Homo sapiens: one gene and its partner. The protein of the gene in region 2 interacts with the protein of the main gene of each other region in a pairwise test. Each region holds a gene or a part of one and is shown on either strand. Other genes may lie near its edges.

Evidence for each region.
Region 1: the proteins of TMC4 (region 2) and MS4A13 interact in binary tests that used the Homo sapiens proteins (3 or more experiments, as listed by UniProt).

The regions. Positions count from the first base shown.
Region 1 is NC_000011.10:60,514,124-60,518,191, forward strand, and holds the start of MS4A13 (membrane-spanning 4-domains subfamily A member 13), read left to right. Parts: upstream 1-1,268; 5' UTR 1,269-1,484; intron 1,485-1,845; 5' UTR 1,846-1,961; intron 1,962-3,948; 5' UTR 3,949-3,960; coding exon 3,961-4,068. UniProt on the Homo sapiens protein: May be involved in signal transduction as a component of a multimeric receptor complex.
Region 2 is NC_000019.10:54,159,608-54,163,160, forward strand, and holds the end of TMC4 (voltage-gated chloride channel TMC4), read right to left. Parts: intron 3,553-3,553; coding exon 3,426-3,552; intron 3,164-3,425; coding exon 3,066-3,163; intron 2,679-3,065; coding exon 2,495-2,678; intron 1,654-2,494; coding exon 1,523-1,653; intron 1,427-1,522; coding exon 1,271-1,426; intron 1,004-1,270; exon of another isoform or gene 939-1,003; coding exon 860-938; intron 768-859; coding exon 699-767; 3' UTR 501-698; downstream 1-500. Other genes in the region: LENG1 (leukocyte receptor cluster member 1), read right to left, coding at 1-88. UniProt on the Homo sapiens protein: Voltage-gated chloride channel involved in high-concentration salt taste sensation. Depolarization induced by high NaCl concentration may trigger the activation of TMC4-mediated chloride influx into taste bud cells, helping the return to resting potential.

The sequences.
Region 1 (4,068 bases), on a different chromosome or scaffold from region 2:
TGAAGAAATATGTCACTTCTCTCACAAATAATCAATCAGTCTTGGCAGCAAGTTACAATAGCGGTCCATCTCATCAGAACTGGCTCTTACTACTATGGATTCTAAAAAATCCATAACCCTGAGGTTGAAGACACAGTTCCTCTTTCTACAGCAAAGAGAATGCTTAATATTATCGGAGCCCTGTCTGCTCATAGACAAGGAACTCACAAAATAATAATAATGCTAGAAACTGAAGTGGTATATTACTTAAGAATAAAACTATTACCTTCAATGACATACTGACCAATACAGAATGTAAAGACTTTAGAAGAGGCTGGGCTTTTTTTTTTTGTTTTTTTTTCCTTTGATTTGAGGGGACTTTGGAGTCTCAATGTAAGGAAGCTAGCTGTGAGACTAAAAATTAAGATTCTCAATTTACAGTTGATTTTTCAGGCTATAAAAGATCTTGATGGCTTTTAGACACACTCATGATTTAGCTTTTTGCAAATAAAGGTGTTGAAAGCATAGAAAATTTCCTTATGAAAGAAAAATCTGTCTTGTTTTCTGCGTGTTTTACTCACTGGCTATCATTGACTAAAAATTTACACTACAAGCTGGAATTTTAACTATTCCACAATGTCAATTTAAATTTTCCATGAATAAATGAGAAATGCCATTGAGTGGCTGTTCTCCAGGTACTTTAAACGCCTCAGTAAGTCATGATAGCTGCCTAAGAGGATGGTCTGTACTGCTCATCTAAAGCACCTCTTCATAAACACTGTTTTAACTACTGTCTACACCTCAAACAGAAAACTAACACCACGTGTCACCTAAAAGGTAAACCCGCCTCAGCAAGTGGATCAAAAAGTCATTCTGGTGTCTTGTTAAGTATTACTTTCATCACTAATTTCCTTCTTCAGTTACTTATGTTTAAAGAAAAAAAAAGTGAGCCATTGATTTAGCCACTTCACTCGAAAGTGCACCTTCCAAAGGTGCTCTTGTGGTCAAAATTTTTCTTTGAAGACAGAAAAGGTGAAGGGCGGACTTCTCCTCAGTGATCCTGGTCACTGTGCAGCAGGTGGGTGTATAAGAAATGCACCAATATGGGCAATCTCAGAATAGAGGTTTGCAGAAACCGTTCCTAGAGGCACCAAAACGTAGTTAACCGGGTGTCTGACCACATGGCTGCCAGGAGCCTAGTGAGTCTGCGCACACGCACTACCTCCGCCCCGGCAGTTCCTGAGTGGGTGCGCAGGCGCAAGAGGAGCACACCGTTGCCATTGCAGACCGTCACTCCCTGAGGAGCCTGAGAGCCGGCCGGGTGCTGGGCTCCTGGCTATCCCTGTGATGGTAGCTCAGCGAGATCTGGGGACCTGGCGCTGAGCGCGTTGCCAGCCGGGATCTTCCTCTTCATCTAGGCCTGGGCGCTGGCGTGAGAACTCGGACTGGGTCCTGGACGAGCGCCCCCCGAAACTCCTTGGAACCTTGAACAAGTAAAATGCAGGGTAGTGATGTCGCTTTGCTGGAGTGCTTTCGTGTCAGAAGCCATAAAGGGACACGGAGGCTGATTACGGTGTTCCTCTCCCTATCATACTCTGTAAACAGTAGGCACTATTTACTACTCAGAGATGATAGCTGTAAAATGCCGATATGTTTTAGTCATAGAGAGAGACTTTTCAGTTATGAAGGCTGTTATTCAGAACAGATGGATGAAAGTTGATGCCTCTAATATTAAGGCCTAGAAAGAAGAAAGAAGGCTATTGCTTCTGAATTTGGAGAGGTGGTGACTGAACAATAAGGAAAGGATCAAACTTACGTATTTTCTTCTAAGAAAATAATGTATATGTGCTTTGTACTGTTTTGTAGAAGTTTGCTAATAAAGACATCACCAAAGGTTAAAGAGAAAATCATCTAGAGGAAATGCTGGCAGTATGGCATGTGTTCTTTAACAAATCTCTACAGCAGATTCTCTCGTTTTAGGGGTAAGATTTCACTTTGACTAACTAAATTTAAGATCATGAACTATTTCATTTTTTTAACGGATATATTGGATCTAAAGGGGGACAGACTTGGTTAAATCAAAAGGGTAAAAGTTTTTTTTTTTTCAAATGTTGATTGTCTTCTACAAATTTTGACTGATCTCATGTTCCTTCATGTGCTGAGATATGGGGATACAGACTAAACCAACACACACAGGATAATAGAGAAATCCAAGTAAGGTTTAAAAGGAAAAAAGAGAGTACTGCACTTACATTTATGCAGTAGGATGATTATAAATTTGTCTCTTCTATTAAGTTATAAACATGTGAAGTTACAGTTTAGCTTTCTTAATGAACACCAAGGAATTATGAGTATCATGCTTTTTCACATCCAAAGGGGAGAAAACATTTCCACTCGTGAACTTTTCTTCTGAATTTGAATGTTGCATAGATCAATTATCTAAGTCGCCTATACGACTGTTCAGCAGAGGTTCTTAACCTCTTTGGGGTCACAGACCATTTTGGCATAGAATGAAAACTCTGAATCTTCTTTCCAGAATTATGTACATGTCACAATCCTTCGCATTTTTTTTCCCTGGGGGCAGGGGGTAGGCGGGTCTGACCTCCTGGAACTCATATTGATTCTAGATTAAGAATCATTTTTAAATAAGAAAACCTATCTTGTCCTTCTCCACACACTGGCAGTTCTTAACAAGCATTGGCTAATTAGCTATCTCATGGTTTTATATAAAACAATAGTCAATCATTTAAAAAGAGATAGTACTTTTCAAGCTCACTTACTTTTTTAACAGTTGGGAAAGTCACATGGAATCACTATTCTTGACACCAGTATGCTTATATAAGAGGTATTTGCTGGATGCCTTCTCTATTCTGGGCACCATATTAGAGGCTGGTGATAAAACAATAAAAAAAAAAAAACTCCAGGCCCTAAGGGATTTTGCAGTCTAGTGGGAGATATTTCTCCAGGCAAATCCAAAGAATTTCTGGAAAATTACCATTCTTGCAAATTTGATGCAAGGGGAAACGTTAAATTCTAAATCTATAAAAATGCATGATCGTTACCAAAAAAGAGACTTTTTCTTAAAAAAAAAACAAAACTTCTCCAAAATGTATTTTTTAAAGTTAGCCAATTGCACTTATATATTTCATAGACTGCCTGCTTTGCAAAGAGCTGGAACTCTTAAAACATTAAATAGCTTTCTGTTTAAGTTTATATGAAAATAAAATTTATGTGTCCTCTGTCATTTTTAAAGAGTAATCAAAAATGTGATTAAATATATGAAATATCAGTTCACATATAAATTCAGAAATAAATTTGCTGGGATTATAATTATCTTCTTACAAATTAGAGTTGAGTAATAATTCTCCCCTATTCAAAATCCTTCCCCTTTCCAATGGGAAAACCGAGTTCAAGCGAGTCCATTTTGGATATTTTCTGTATTGCTGTGTTGGATTATGCCCCACTCCAGCATACTTGTGAAAAAAATCATACCAAATACTCCTTGAAGGAAAAGATAAATCAAACCTTTATAAAATTCAAAAAGTGATTCATCTTTAATAAATTACTAATGTACAAGAAAATGTTGGATTTATGGCTTCCTGCATTATAGTAGATTAGTAACCACATTTTCTCTGAAGTAACCCCAATATTCTCTCATACCATTACTTGATAGGTAGGGAGACTATCCAGTGATAGAATCAAACTGTTAACTTACAGGAGAATTGGCCAGAGCTACTATTATTGAACAGCCTGTTGCTTTCAGTATGACTGATTCCTATTTGGTAAATCTCAGTCCTTCCTGATCGGTCCTTTTTTCTGGGATAACCAATCCAGGAAATACATCATTAAGTGCATTGCTGTTTTACTTTTGTATTTGTAAAGGTGTTAAATGCTTCTTATAGTTAACACTTATTGGAATTGTGTTTTAAATTACATTATTTCGGTACTAACATAATTCTCTTCTCACAGACTATCCAGATTATGATTGGCATCTTTCACATTTTCATGTGGTACTTTCTATTGGTTTTGTATATGGGACAAATTAAAGGAGCCTTTGGAACGTATGAACCTGTAACTTACAAAACAGGA
Region 2 (3,553 bases):
CCTCCCGGGCCTGGGCCTCGTCACGCCGCACGCGGGCGACATTGTCCTTGTTCCGGACGTGCCAGCTCTTCTTGGGCAAGATATTCATGGCGTCGTAGCTGTCCAGGGACTGGCACGCCCGCCTCTTTGCACTTCCGATTGGCGAGAGGATGCCCCCCTTTTTCTTGTCCCTACTTCGACCGCGGATTGGTTCCGAATTAGTTGGTACGGCCCCCTGGCCTGTAGCGACAGGTGATTGGCTGAGACGCCCTTTATCACAGCGAATGCTAGGCGTTCGGCTCGTGGTATCCCCTAGCAACCGCCTCTTGTCACAGATCTGAACCAATCATAAGTTGGCCCGCCCCTGATGCTACCAGATGCGGCCGTCGATTGGCCGACATGACCGACAAGTCTCCTTGCGGAAGAGCGCTCTGCACCGACAAACATGCCCGTACATTTGATTGGCTCCTGCCCCGCTGTAGCCCTGCCCCCACCTTCAGGACGCAGATTTCAAAGCGCGCTCAGCAACCTCGGCTGTATTTATTGATACAAGGAAGATCACCCGAGAGTCAGGGACGTGGCGGCGAGGGGCCCTGGAAATCTCCAGATACCAAAGCTGGAAGGGCGTGGAGTCTTCTCCAGTTCTCCTAGTTTACAGATGTTGTGACCTAGGCTTACAATGGGCCTGGGGTCTGAAAGCGGGACGTGGGCTGCGGGGGTCAAAGAGCCGGTTTGGTGGAGGTCAGCGCCACAGCGCGCCGTGCCAGGAAGACTTTATTCTGCGCCTCCTGGGGCAAAGAGAGGTGGAGGTGAGACAATCCTCTTCCCCAACCCCTTTCCATGTTCCCCAGGGGCCCTCTCAGGGACCCGCCTGGCTCACCGTCTCTCTCTGACGTTTGAGCTCAGAGATGAGGCGTCCGTAGGAGTTAGCCAGAGCCACAGTGTACGCCATCAGGATGCTGAAGGAGACAGGAACGGAAGCCACTCCTGACACGCTCTTCCATTATATCCAAACGTCTGGCTCCTTCGAAGCCAGGGATGTGGACGCCTAAGCCCCTCCTCGTCTGGGCTCAAGGAGTTCAGTCTCCCAGCCCCTCCGCCTTCAGATCCAGGAGTCCTACGTCCCGCCCACCTCCTCCTTCGGACCCAGCAGTCCAGGAGCCTAGGCCTCCTCCCTCAGACTCAGTACGTTGCCTGCTCCCACGCCCAAGCCTCTCCTCTCTTGGACGCAGGTGGTGGCCCCCAGATCACACGCATTCAAACCCAGACCCAGAAGTCTGGGCCGTCTCACCTGGAGATCAGCAGAAGGGGCACAGCAAAAGCCTGGGTCCCCAGGAAGAAGAGGAAATTCTGGGTGGTCTCAGGGAGGCTGGAAATAGACTCAGGGATCTGGGCCCAGATGGACGACTGCCCCCGGAATGGACCACACAGCTTAGAAGGCGGGATCCTGAAGTCAAGACAGGCTGGGCTCACATAGTGCCAGGAGTCTGAACACTGAATGGGGAGAGAGGGAGGGAGAGAGGCGGGAGCCTCTCGCACTTACAGGAAGATGCTGTAAAGCAGGGGAACGCTGGAGATGGCCAGACCCAGGAGAAGGACCAAGGGGAAAAAGAAATTCGCCGCGGAGGCCCGGAAGGTGCGGGCAGCCGGGGAGCAGGTGGAGAAGAGGGTAAGCTGGTGGGGGAAGGCACGGAGAAAAGGGCTCTGAAACACAAGAGTCTGTGCCTCCATTTTTTTTTTTTTTTTTTTTTGAGACAGAGTCTCGCTCTGTCGCCCAGGCTTTTTTTTTTGAGACAGAGTCTCGCTCTGTCGCCCAGGCTGGAGTGCAGTGGCTCTCACTGCAGCCTCCCCTCCCGGGTTCAAGCTATTCTCGTGTCTCAGCCTCCCGAGTAGCTGGGATTACAGGTGTGCACCACCACTCCCGGCTAATTTGTTTTGCTGTTGTTGTTGTTTGTTTGTTTTCTCTTTTTGAGACGGAGTCTCGCTCTGTCGCCCAGGCTGGAGTGCAGTGGCACGATCTTGGCTCACTTCGACCTTCACCTCCCTGGTTCAAGCAATTCCCCTGCCTCAGCCTCCTGAGTAGCTGGGATTACAGGCGCCTGCCACTAAGCCCGGCTAATTTTTTTTGTATTTTTAGTAGAGACGGGGTTTTGCCATGTTAGCCAGGCTGGTCTCAAACTCCTGACCTCAGGTGATCCACCCGCCTTAGTCTCCCGAAGTGCTGGGATTACAGGCGTGAGCCACTGCACCCGGCCTACCTGCCTCTCCTTTTTTCCGAACCAGGAGTCTGAGCCCCTTCCTCATCTAGGACCCCGGAGTCTGAGTCCCCAGATCCTCAGACATATAAGTCAGAATGCCCTAGACCCCTCCTCTCAGATGCAGTAGTCTGTCCTCCAACCCCCTCCTCTCTCAGGACCGAGTAATCCAGGCCCCCAGGATCTTCCTTGCCCTTGACCCAGGAGTGCGGGCCCCAATACCTCCTGCCTCAGACCCAAGGGTCCCCCCTACCCCTTACCTTCTTCAGGTAGAAAAGCAGCAGGAACTTGACCGTGTTAAGCAGGGGCAGTAAAGGGCAGAAAAAACTCCCCACCCAGACCACCGTCTGCGCGTAGATGAGCCCCAGCACCTCGTCGGGCACCTGGAACTCTTGGGTCCCCGCCAGACGACCCAGCGCCCCAGGACAGAGGCCACAGAGGAGCCTGAAGGACGGGGCGGGGCCGGGCCGGAGTCAGGGGAGTGGCGGCCTGGAGTTTCCACGCCTCCACCGCCCCGCCCGCCAATAGGAAGCATGCGTATTGGTGGTGGGGGGGGGGGGGGCGGGACTTTCAGGACTCCACGTGGAGGGGGTGTGTCCAGAGGGCGGGTCCTGAGGACTAGAAGGGACCCAGATGTCGCCGCCGTCGGGGCCAGAGGGAAGTAACCCACTAAAACAAGGGCGGGGAGCGGGGAGATCTGCGGACCTAGGGCAAGCAAAGGGAGCAGGCAGAGGCGGGAATGGTAAAAAGGTGCGCGGTGAAAAGAACAGCGCGATGGGGCACGGCCTCGTCCTAGAGGGGCGGGGCCACAGCAAGGGGCGGGGCTCTCACTTTCTAGGAAACTGGATGAGCAGCGCGACTGCCAAGACAGTCAGCAGATCAAAGAGCAGAAGTTTGTACATTTCCTGGCCCAGGACAGTCTCCCAGCACTGAAGAAGGAAGAAATATATCAGAAAGAACTCGGGACCCGGGCACCTGGAGGCCCACGCGTCCGAGTCTCCACATCGCAAGCCTATGAGACCCTGTCAATACTTTCTCTGGGGGTCCTCGTTTTTCAAACTTTCATACCCTTGGGAGAGTGTTCCAGCACCCCAAGCTCCCCTCTCCGCCCAAACCAAGAGTCTGGACCCACCCAGCTCCATCTTTCCTTCAGGGACCCAAGAGTCCCACGCACACCCATGCCGTTCTCACCGGAAGTTGTTTGTAATTGTAGCCACAGGTTTTGCAGTCCTCAGCCTCGGAGTCGCCCCCACAAGTGATCTGATTCCAGAGAGAGAAGAGCAGGACCACCAGGGAGGCGAGGCGAAGAAACACGGTCC